2 linked regions of the Homo sapiens genome follow. The protein of the gene in region 2 interacts with the protein of the main gene of each other region in a pairwise test. Each region holds a gene or a part of one and is shown on either strand. Other genes may lie near its edges. The genes, in order: AGAP2 and STAT5A.

The links.
Region 1: the proteins of STAT5A (region 2) and AGAP2 interact in binary tests that used the Homo sapiens proteins (3 or more experiments, as listed by UniProt).

Annotation. Positions count from the first base shown.
Region 1 is NC_000012.12:57,724,452-57,728,781, reverse strand, and holds the end of AGAP2 (arf-GAP with GTPase, ANK repeat and PH domain-containing protein 2), read left to right. Parts: intron 1-404; coding exon 405-464; exon of another isoform or gene 465-696; coding exon 697-845; exon of another isoform or gene 846-1,010; coding exon 1,011-1,101; exon of another isoform or gene 1,102-1,199; coding exon 1,200-1,422; exon of another isoform or gene 1,423-1,552; coding exon 1,553-1,808; exon of another isoform or gene 1,809-1,817; intron 1,818-1,987; coding exon 1,988-2,230; 3' UTR 2,231-3,585; downstream 3,586-4,330. UniProt on the Homo sapiens protein: GTPase-activating protein (GAP) for ARF1 and ARF5, which also shows strong GTPase activity. Isoform 1 participates in the prevention of neuronal apoptosis by enhancing PI3 kinase activity.
Region 2 is NC_000017.11:42,291,216-42,298,499, reverse strand, and holds part of STAT5A (signal transducer and activator of transcription 5A), read right to left. Parts: intron 6,529-7,284; coding exon 6,439-6,528; intron 2,882-6,438; coding exon 2,707-2,881; intron 1-2,706. UniProt on the Homo sapiens protein: Carries out a dual function: signal transduction and activation of transcription. Mediates cellular responses to the cytokine KITLG/SCF and other growth factors. Mediates cellular responses to ERBB4.

The sequences.
Region 1 (4,330 bases), on a different chromosome or scaffold from region 2:
GCCACCAGCCCCAGGGCCCTCTCATCTCAGCCCTGCGCCCCAGCTTCTGTCCCCTTCCCCCGTGTTCACTCAGATCCTGACCCTCCCTTCTTCTCCCAGAGGTCCAGCTCCTCGCTGGTCTTGATAACCCATCCCTGCTGCCCCTGCTCTCTGCCGGGTGCTCAGACCCAGGTTCCAGATCTGCCTACTCTCATGGCTCTTGGCTTCTGTTCCACTCTGCTCCGGGGCCACTGACTTTAGTTCTGCTTTCTCTCCCCATCTGTCTGTCCTGCTTTGTCTCTGGCACTCTGTCACTATCTCTCTCCATCTCTCCATCTACCTGTCTTTTTCTCCTTCTTTCTTGGTCTCTCTTTCTCTGTTCTGCTCTCCATTCTATCTCTATCTCCTTCGCTTCGGGAAACCAGCCAAGCGCAAAATGTGGAAACTAAAATCCTTTGGTAGTTTAAGAAATATTTATAAAGCAGGTAACAAGTGGGGAGCCGGGAGGGGCGCTCAGCTGGGGTGCAGAAGGGTGGGGGTGCCCCCGCCTTCCCCTGCATGTGCTCGGGCTTCCTGCTGCCCCCCACCCTCTGCTTTCCCTACCCCCACTGCCCCACTCCCAGGGGCTCGGGATGGACATCAGGGAGGACGGTCTTGGGAAAGGCAGCCCCTGCTTGAACTCTGTCCCTTAATGACCCCATCCCATCCCCCACTCAGAGGAAAACTTTGAGTTCCTGATCGTGTCCAGCACGGGTCAGACGTGGCACTTTGAGGCAGCCAGTTTTGAGGAGCGGGATGCCTGGGTCCAGGCCATCGAGAGTCAGATCCTAGCCAGTCTGCAATGCTGTGAGAGCAGCAAGGTCAAGGTAAGAGTTTGAGGTGGAGTGGAGGACTGGCCGCAGGAACTGACCCTGGTGCTGACGGCCATTGGCAACGACACGGCCGAAGTCGTGTGAGAGGAGAGCAGAGGTGTCTGAGAAGGAGGTGGGGCTTGGAGGCAGAGTCAGTGCCAACCCAAACCCTCTCTGCAGCTGCGCACAGACAGCCAAAGCGAGGCCGTGGCCATCCAGGCGATCCGGAACGCCAAGGGGAATTCAATCTGCGTGGACTGCGGGGCCCCCAGTGAGTGCCAGGAGGCAGCGGAGGGGCTAGGGAGTGTAGTGAATGCCGGGGTGCCTGTGCTGCCCGGCTGGGAGCCGACCTCTACGCTCCTTCCGCAGACCCCACGTGGGCCAGCTTGAACCTGGGCGCCCTCATCTGCATCGAGTGTTCTGGCATCCACCGCAACCTGGGCACACACCTGTCCCGCGTTCGCTCGCTGGACTTGGACGACTGGCCACGGGAGCTGACCCTGGTGCTGACGGCTATTGGCAACGACACGGCCAACCGCGTGTGGGAAAGCGACACGCGAGGCCGTGCCAAGCCCTCGCGGGACTCTTCGCGGTAAGCGTGAGGGAACAGAGCGGGGGGAGGGTTGCTGAGGGTGTGCGAACCTGAGACGGTCCCGTGGGTAGGGGCAGAAGTCCTGGCTGGGGGTCCCTAGAGCCTTTTCCGTTGATCCCTGGTCTTGCAGGGAGGAGCGCGAGTCGTGGATTCGCGCCAAGTACGAGCAGCTACTGTTCCTGGCGCCGCTGAGCACCTCGGAGGAGCCGCTGGGCCGCCAGCTGTGGGCCGCCGTGCAGGCCCAGGACGTGGCTACCGTTCTCCTGCTTTTGGCCCATGCGCGACACGGGCCGCTCGACACCAGCGTAGAGGACCCACAGCTGCGCTCCCCACTCCACCTGGCGGCCGAGCTCGCCCACGTCGTCATCACGCAACTGCTGCTGTGGGTACGTGAGCTGGGGGGAGGAAAGGGGGTCTTTGAGGCTTCATCTCGGAAAACGCCTGGCGCGGGAAAGCCCGAAATTCCCAGAGGGACCCCGGAAGTAGGCTTGGCCATGTGGGGGAGGCGGCGCCGGGTGTGGGCGCCCTGGGGACGCGCGGTCACGCGGCCGTTTCCGCCCTCTAGTACGGCGCGGACGTGGCGGCCCGTGACGCCCAGGGCCGCACGGCGCTGTTCTACGCCCGCCAGGCTGGAAGCCAGCTGTGCGCCGACATCCTTCTCCAGCACGGCTGCCCGGGTGAGGGCGGCAGCGCGGCCACCACGCCCAGCGCGGCCACCACGCCCAGCATCACCGCCACGCCCAGCCCCCGCCGCCGGAGCAGCGCCGCTAGCGTGGGCCGCGCCGACGCCCCGGTTGCGCTGGTATAGTTGCCCAGCGGGAGAGACACCCCCATCCCCACGCGGGCCGGGCACGACCACACCGGGCGGACCGCTGGACAGACGCACCCACTCACCTCTCCGATCCGCACCCCGCCCCACGGGAGCACTTCCTACCCCCACGAGGGCACAGCCCCCACGCCTTCCAGAAGACACAAACTCACCTCCCTCTCCCCAACGAGGCATGGAGACCCCAGCTCAACACGCCCCCTCTCCATTGTTTCCACACTCGGATTGCTCTGGGTCTACCCGCTCGGGGTTCGCGGAAGGGGAGGTCCCCAGCGGTACGGGCTCCTAGGCGCTTGGACATGCCCGCTTGTGCCCCCTAGGGGCGGAAAGAAGACCCGGTCCTGCCCGAGCTCAACAATCCCAGGGCGGGAGCCCATACCCAGGCTGGCTCCTGGGGCGACGCCACGCCAGAGGGAGGGTTTAGTACATGGGAGGGCTAGCCCCGGGACTTGGGGCCAATACGGAAACCCTACCCCTTCCATGCTCATCTCACTGCCCAGTGAAGGGGGCAAGGGCAGCGAGGGGCAGGACCCCTGCTGCTCATGGGGGTGGGGGTTCCCAACCCTTTCCGTGAAAGGGACCGTGAGTAGTGGAAACCAGGACGTCCCCTACACCTACCCATGGGTGGAAGCTAAAGAGTCCGGGGGGAACCAAGAGCCTGGGTCCCTCCCACTACTATCTTGGGAGGGAGAAGGGATGGAGCAGGAGCGGGCTAAGAGGGCTGCGGGGGCCTTGTAATTTATTGCTTTGTTCCCCAACATGGGGATGGGGGCGGGCAGGGGCGTGGGGAGGGCGTTTTGGGGTAGGGGAAGCCCAGGGTGGGCAGGGGGTGGGTTGGGGTGGGGGTGCTCTCGGGTTGTGTCTGTGACCGTGACTGCGTACCTGTGACTGTGCAGCGCCCGTGGTGATCTGGGGTAGGGGGCACCCCTACAGTGGGACCCCTCCCCCATTATTCTTTCTGTCCAGCCCCTCCCTCCCACTGGAGCAGCTCCAGAGCCATTCCTCACCCCCGTGACCTCTCCCAGCCAGGGCTGAGAGGATTCGAGGTGGCTGGGAGGGTTTCCAGGCCCCCTGCCCCTTCCCCACAAACTGGGTGATAGGGCGGACTTACCTGGCCCAGCCCTGCCTCCCTCAGCCAACCCAGCCCTTGGGCTGTCTGTGTCAGTGGTTTCCGGTCTTTTTTTTTTTTTTTTTTTCTGGCTAAAATAGTTTGCAAAGGACCAGGTAATTGGGGAGGGGAGAGAGGTGGGGGCAAGGGGGAAATGCCCCCCCATCTCCTTGGAGGCAGTGGTGTGAATCTTCTTCAACAGCAATTAAAGAGGAAGTGATTTTGTCTAGGGGGTGAGCTGCTGGTCTGTTCTTGGAGGCAGGTCAGGGCATGGCCTTGGTCAAGATGGGGTACTGGGGTTGGACAGGGACAGGCAGAGGTGCCTCCCACTGGGGCTGGTGGCAGGACAGTACCCATGGGCATGGAGGTGGTTCCATCATGTACAACAGTTCTGGGTTCATGTAGTGGAGGACGTGGGCAGGTTGGAGTCAGTGGGGACCCTGGGAACAGAGAAGGCACTGACTCTTAAGATGATGCCAGTCCTGGGAGAGTTGGGATATGGTACTTAGAGGAGAGGACAGGCCCATGGAGAGGGGTGGGAAGATGGGACAGCTTTGTTTAAGAGCAGGAACTTTGGAGACAGATCTGATTTTGAAACCTGCCCCTCCACTGCACAGCTAGGGGACCTTGGTGGCATCTGTTTATCTGTATTCTGAACAGTATCTGTTCAGAGGGCACCTGAAAGGCGCTCCAGCTCTGAGGAGGGCTGCCCCGAGCCAGCCTGCTCACCGTGAGCACTAGGTACCAGAGTAGAACATAGAGTAGGGGTTCCTCCCCTGGCCTCGTCAGGGGGTGTTCCAGAGGGAAGGGGTGGGAGACCTCCTGGGAAAGATTTCCCAGCTAGCTGCAGAGGTCCCTGGTGTCCACAAACTCAGTGTCAGCTGATGCAGGCATTTATCCACCTCCGTGCCATCAAAGGGACCACCAAGGCCACAGCGGCCTGAAGCCGGTGCTGCCTCCATGAGCTGCAGTGC
Region 2 (7,284 bases):
ACTCTGTCTAAAAAAAAAAAAAAAAAAGTATCCATCATGTGCCAGGCTCGGTGGCTTACGCCTGTAATCCCAGCACTTTGGGAGGCTGAGACAGGCAGATCACTTGAGGTCAAGAGTTCGAGACCAGCCTGGCCAACATGGCAAGACCCTGTCTCTACTAAAAATACAAAAATTAGCTGGGCATGGTGGCGCATGCCTGTAATCCCAGCTACTTAGGAGGCTGAGGCAGGAGAATTGCTTGAACCCGGGGTTAAAGGTTGCAGTGAGCCGAGAGCACCACTGCACTCCAGCCAAGGCAACAGAGCAAGACTCCATCTCAAAAAAAAAAAAGTATCCATTATGAAATACGTAAGACACAGGGGATGTGGAACACAAGGGCGCCTGTGTATCAATAACCCAGGCTAAGAAAGTAAACATGTCCACAGTTACAACCACCACCGCAGGCCCACCCCACCCTCCCAGCGACAGCCCGTCTCCACCACACTGGGACTATTAATCCCTTCCCATCACCTTCTCAACAGCCCAGCGTCCTTGCTTGAGCTGAGTCAGAAGATGCGCGCACCAGCATGTCTTGGTCGAGCTCCTGGCTGGCCCCTGAGGGCCACGTCACTCTGACCCCAGCCCTGACCCATGGGATGCACAAGCTGGGACAGACAAAAGCAACTCTATGTAGCCAGGAACAGCCCAGAGCTAGAACTCAGAAATATGGCTCCAATCTCACTGCAGGTATCGAGCAGGAAGAGGATCATCCAGGCACGGACAGATCCGAGGTGTCTGCACGGCTACCTCGGGTATCCTGCCCAGCCACAGGGAGGGTGGTGGTGATCCCAACACCTGGGCCCAGCCTTCCTATGCAAGGGACCCACTTAGGGCTCTCCTGGAAATTTGCAGAAGCTTTTAGGAAGGAGGCCAGGGAGACGGGAAGCAATTTCCCTACTCCACTGGAGGCAGCTGAGCCTTCCCTGGCAAAAGCAGATCAATAGTCTGTGTTTCTGCTGAGTGAACTTGACAAATGGGACTGAGAAGACACTGCATGATAGATCCAAACCCAACCTGAATCCAAACCTAATCCGCCACCATGCACAGGAAACAGAAAAGCCAGGCACGGGATCAGAAATACTGTCGACAGTCTAAGGACTTGGGTAGGAATAACCGCCCAAAATCTTCCGTTTCCATTCTCAGAAGGAGCTGCCCTTCTTCTAGGGCCAGTCTGGGATAGATTCAGATGAGGGGAAATTCTCTTAGAATTATCCTGTCAGTATTGGCTGGGCACCGTGGCTCACGCCTATAATCCTAGCACTTTGGGAGGCCGAGGCAGGCAGATCACTCGAGGCTAGAGGTTGCAACCAGCCTGGACAACACGGCACAACCCTGTATCTACTAAAACTACAAAAAAAAAAAATTAGCCAGGCATGGTGGTGCATGTCTGTAGTCCCAGCTACTGAGGAGGCTGAGGCATGAGAATAGTTTGAACCTGAGAGGCAGAGGTCGCAGTGAGATGAGATCGTGCCACTGCACTCCAGCCTGGGCAATAATAAATAAACAAACAAACAAACAAACATTTAGAATTATCCTGCAAGTATTTACATAATAGCTGCAATATTCAGGCATTGTGCTGGTCTCAGTGTACACAAAGCACTGACAGTGCAGGGTTAGGAAGAGAGCTTAAATAGCTACAATAGAATTCTAAAAAAATCAGCTGGGCGTGGTGGCCTGCACCTGTAGTCCCAGCTATGCGGGAGACTGAGGCACAAGAATTTCTTGAAGCTGGGAAGCAGAGGCTGCAGTGAGCCGAAATCATGCCACTGTGCTCCAGCCTGGGCGACAGAGCAAGATTGTCTCAAAAAAAAGAAAAGAAAAAGAAAGAAAAGAAAAGAAGAAAGGTCTAAAATCAATGACCTAAGGTCTACCTTAAGAAATCAGATTAAAAAGAGTAAAGGAAAAAGCAGTTTGACACCCCTTGTTCTCACTAAGATGAGGTGTTACATTTCTGGGGTCAGTCTGGAATGGGACATATTAATAGATGGGCCATGTCCCATGACTCCTCAAATTGTACCTGGGGATAGTTCCTTTCAAGCTAATTTGATTTTTTAATTTCCCCACATCTTTATCATGGGAGCCATTGGCGAACTACAGACCTAGGATACAGGAGAATTTTCTACTGTCACCCCTTCCCCCAGGCCCACATCCTATCCGTGAGGCTCAAGAAGGCCCACTTTGGAAGTTCCACCTCTCCCAGCCTGGTTCAACCAGAAGACTTCCAATCCAAGTCCTCCCTCTGGTTAGGGAGCACTGTTCATATTTACCTATTTGTGTCGATATTTACAGAATACATACCATTAAGGAGAGAATACTGGTTAATAAAGTACAGGAGTTTTATGATATATCTCTAGTTGAGATCCAGTTCTGTAATTTACAGGCAACCTAGGCCAAGTTACTTGTTCTCTTTGAACCTCACTTTTACCATCTGCAAAAGGGGGGATAACACAACTGTTCACTTCATAGGCTTGTTGAGAGGGTTGAATTAAATAATGTGTGCCAAGTGTGACCCACGGCAGGGGCTCAATCACCGGGAGCCATTGCTTCTACCAGGCTTTGGGCAAAGTGCTGAGGAGATGGACACTGACCCAGCTCTACCCTCTAGGAGTCCATAGAATGTTCCTCACTCCCACCCTCCGGATGCACACTGCCTCCACCGCGCCTCACCTTGGATCCTCAGGCTCTCCTGGTACTGGATGATGAAGTACTCCTGAGTCTGCTGCAGTTTCTTCAGCTCATTCTCTGTGTCCTGCGTGACCAGTCGCAGCTCCTCAAATGTCTGGTTGATCTGAAGGTGCTTCTGGGACATGGCGTCAACCAGGATCCCAGCCGGAGAGCTGCACTGGAGACAGATGGAATGGAAATAACTCGGGGAAGAGAGGATGGGAGAAGACCACAGGCATTAGGAAACACCAATACTACAGACCCCAAACCCCAAACCCCAAACTAGGGTAAGAAGGGAAACTAGGGCAAGAAGGAAGGATCATTTGCATCAGAAGGAGTCATTTGCCAGAATTGGGATAGAAAAGGGAAAGAGAAAGGAGAAACAGGTGACCTGGCAGATAACGGCAGATAGTAACACCTTCAAAGTCCAAATATCTATGTCAGAGCTGCCCTCCACTAGAGTATTCCAAACAGGGTCCATCTAATTTCCTCCCAGGGACTAGAACTCAACACGTCCCAGGTGTCACCTGGGTTTTCCCACTAATGATGATGACCCCTCGCTCTACATTTATTTGCTGACTCAATACCATGGACTGCAGTAGATCCTAGGGACATAGGGAGGAACAGGGCTGTGTGAACACACACCATCTCACTTAAGACCCCCTTGTGACTGAAGGAAGAGGGAAGAGGCCGAAACTCTCACAGGCATCCTGGAGACCCCGAAATGAAGTTAGAGGGGAGGCATCAACAAGCTCCCCTTGGATCCAGCCATTCCTTCAGCACATTCAGGAGAATCGCTTGAACCCAGGAGGGGGATGTTGCAGTGAGCCGAGATTGCGCCACTGCACTCTAGCCTTGGCAACACAGCGAGACTCCGTTTCAAAAAAAAAAAAAATAGAGAGAGAGGGGTAGAAACCAGGTCACAAAGGGAGGGAGCACATGGATGAAGAGGAACAAGTCCTCAGAGGCTTTCCAATGAACTGTTCTCAGAATAAAATCCAAACCCCTTCCCATGGTGTCTGCTGGCCATAGCCCTGCCTACCTCCAACCCCAGCTCGCTGGGAATGTGTGCTTTCTGTTTCTGTTCCTTGAACACACAGGCATGTTCCTGCCCTGGGGCCCTTGCACTTATTGTTCCAACAGTCTGGAACATTCTGGCATCAGATCCTCCTGAGGCAAAGCACTTTAACTGGTACCATTGCAGAGGGGTCATCTCTGACGAGCCAATTCACAGTAGTCCTATCTAAAAGTGTGTTGTTCTTGTATTTGCTTACATGTTTCTGTCTGTCTCCCTGCACAAGGATGTGAGGTTCCCAAGGGCTAGGACCTTGCCTTTCCTGTGAACTACAGAATCCCCAAGCCCTAGAATGCCAGGGGTGTTCAGGAACAGTTGTATGGTTGGAGGAAGGAATGAGCTCCCAGACCATGACAGCACCAGCACCATGGACATGGATTTGTCAATGAGGCTGAAGTCATTTTTAGGTTTGCAGATAGCTCTGTGATGGCAACAAGTCAGGGACACAGGGGCTGTGCTGGAAGACCCTTTGTGACCTGGTTTCTAACCCCTATTTTTTTTTTTTTTATACAGAGTCTCGCTCTGTTGCCCAGGCTGGAGTGAAGTGGTGCAATCTCAGCTCACTGCAACATCCCCCTCCTGGGTTCAAGCAATTCTCCTGCCTCAGCCGCCCGAGTAGCTAGGATTACAGGCGCCCGCCACCACGCCTAGCTAATTTTTGTATTTTTTAGTAGAGACTGGGTTTCACCATGTTGGCCAGGCTGGTCTCGAACTTCTGACGTCAGGTGATCCGCCCACCTTGGCCTCCCAAAGTGCTGGGATTACAGATGTGAGCCACCACGCCTGGCCCTCTCTATCTATTTTTATCCATGGCAACTCCCCACTTGGTTCCTTCTCCCCAGTTACACTGACCACTTACAAGTCTTCCAATGTGATAAGAAGATTCATGCCCTCCTGCTCTCGCAGCTGCTGTCTTTTCATTAGAAAATTCATCCCTCCTCTCCTGCCTTTCTCCACTGTAGCTCAGACATGCCTGTCCACAGGACGCTCCCCTGCCAGCCTGCCCCAATCTGAGTTGGGTGCTTTTTCCACCTAGGCCCCCTTAGCACTCAGCTCATCTCTAGAGAATCCATCACTGCCAGAATTCCTTCCAGGCAAGAACCAGGCCTTTATGTGTTTCTCTGATGATAGCCCAGCATCGGACACACAGTAAGACCTCAATAAATGTCTACTGAGTAAATCCTGAAATCCATGTCCACAACAATAAATACGTAATAGGCCGGGCGTGGTGGCTCATGCCTGTAATCCCAGCACTTCGGGAGGCCGAGGCAGGTGGATCACTTGAAGTCAGGAATTCGAGACCAGCCTGGCCAACAGGGTGAAACCCTGTCTCTACTAAAAATACAAAAATTAGCCGGGCATGGTGGTGGGCCCCTGTAATCCTAGCTACTTGGGAGGCTGAGGCATGAGAATCTCTTGAACCCAAGGGGTGGAGGTTGCAGTGAGCCGAGATCACGCCACTGCACTCCAGCCTAGATGATAGAGTGAGACTCAGTCTCAAAAATAAATAAACAAACAAACAAATAAAGAAAGAAATAATAAATATGACCTGTGCTCCGGTCACTGTTCTAAGATTTCTGTCACGTCATGTTGTGAAATTCATTTTGCTCTATTGCAGATAGTACAGCACTGTGCCATTGTCCATGTAGATGCCCAGTGCCTTTATTATTTCAGAACTGGGGAGATGTGTCCCTGTTACCCCTCCCTGGGCCTCACTTCTCTGAGCCTGCCTGTGTTAGTTCTTCTGACACAGATAGGTATGATTGCTATCTCCATTTTACAAGAGTAGGAACAGGCCGGGCACGGTGGCTCACGCCTGTAATCCCAACACTTTGGGAGGCCGAGGCGGGTGGATCATGAGGTCAGGAGTTCAAGACCAGCCTGGCCAACATAGTGAAACCACGTCTCTACTAAAAATACAAAAAAAATTAGCCGGGCATGGTGGTGGGCACCTGTAATCCCAGCTACTCGGGAGGCTGAGGCAAGAGAATTGCTTGAACCTGGGAGGCAGAGGTTGCAGTGAGCAGAGATCACATCACTGCACTCCAGCCTGGGCAACAGAGCAAGACTGCATCTCGGGGGGGAAAAAACAGTAGGCGCCAAGCGTGGTGGCTCACGCCTGTAACCCCAGTACTTTGGGAGGCCGAGGTGGGCGGATCACGAGGTCAGGTTGAGACCATCCTGGCTAACACAGTGAAACCCCATCTCTGCTAAAAATACAAAAAATTAACCGGGCATGGTGGTGGGCGCCTGTAGCCCCAGCTACTCGGGAGGCTGAGGCAGGAGAATGGTGTGAACCTGGAAGGCAGAGCTTGCAGTGAGCCGAGATCACGCCACTGCACTGCAGCCTGGGTGACAGAGCAAGAATCCGTCTCAAAAAAAAGAAAAAAGAAAAAAGAAAAAAAAACAGGAACAGAGGCTCAGAGAGATTAAGCAACTTGCTCAAGTCACACAGCTAGTAAGTGGTAGAGCCAGGGACTGGATCCAGGGGGTCACTCCACCCCGGCGTGCAATGCTGCCACCTCTTACACTTGCCCACGTCCCTCATCTTCTTGGTGCTCTCCTCGTGCTGCTGTTTTATATAAACACAGTTGTTTCTGGAGAGAAAGGCATATGGAGGGACTTCTCAACACTCCTCCCCATCCCCAAGGGACACTCACATTGTTGGCTTCTCGGACCAGCCTCTGTTCATTGTACAGAATGTGCCGGATGCAGCGGACCAGCTCCAGGGGGCAGCGGTCATATGTTTTCTGAAAGAATCCAACAGTAGCCTCCAGCGCCATCCTCTGCTCCAGCCATGCCAGCCCCATGCTATGCCCAGCCCTTCCTCTCCTTCAGCCTCTGCCTCAGCTTTTCCCAGGGAGCCTCAGGAACTATCCCCAGACACCTCTATATCTCTGTTCCTCATCCTCATCTTCCCCTCCAAGATCTTCATATCTGGTTTGGAGCGAATTAAAAACCCACAGTTTATGAGGCACTTTCTCTTTTTTTTTTTTTTCTTTTTGAGATGGAGTTTTGCTCTTGTTGCCTAGGCTAAAGGTGCAATGGTGTGATCTCAGCTCACTGCAACCTCCACCTCCCGGGTTCAAGCGATTCTCCTTCCTCAGCCTCCTGAGTAGTTGGGATTACAGGCATGTGCCATCACGCTCGGCTAATTTTGTATTTTTAGTAGAGGCGGGGTTTCTCCACGTTGGTCAGGCTGGTCTCGAACTCCCGACCTCAGGTGATCCACCCGCCTCGGCCTCCCAAAGTGCTGTGATTACAGGTGTGAGCCATCATACCCAGTCTTATGAAGCACTTCCAATCTACCGTATCTTTTGACTGTAACACAGGGGTCCCAAACCCCTGGGCCATGGACTGGTACAGGTCGGTGGTCTGTTAGGAACTGGACCACACAGCAGGAGGTGAGCGGCGGTGAGCAAGTGAGTGACGCTTCATCTGTATTTACAGCTGCTGCCTATTGCTCGCATTACAGCCTGAACTCTGCTTCCTGTCAGATCAGCAAT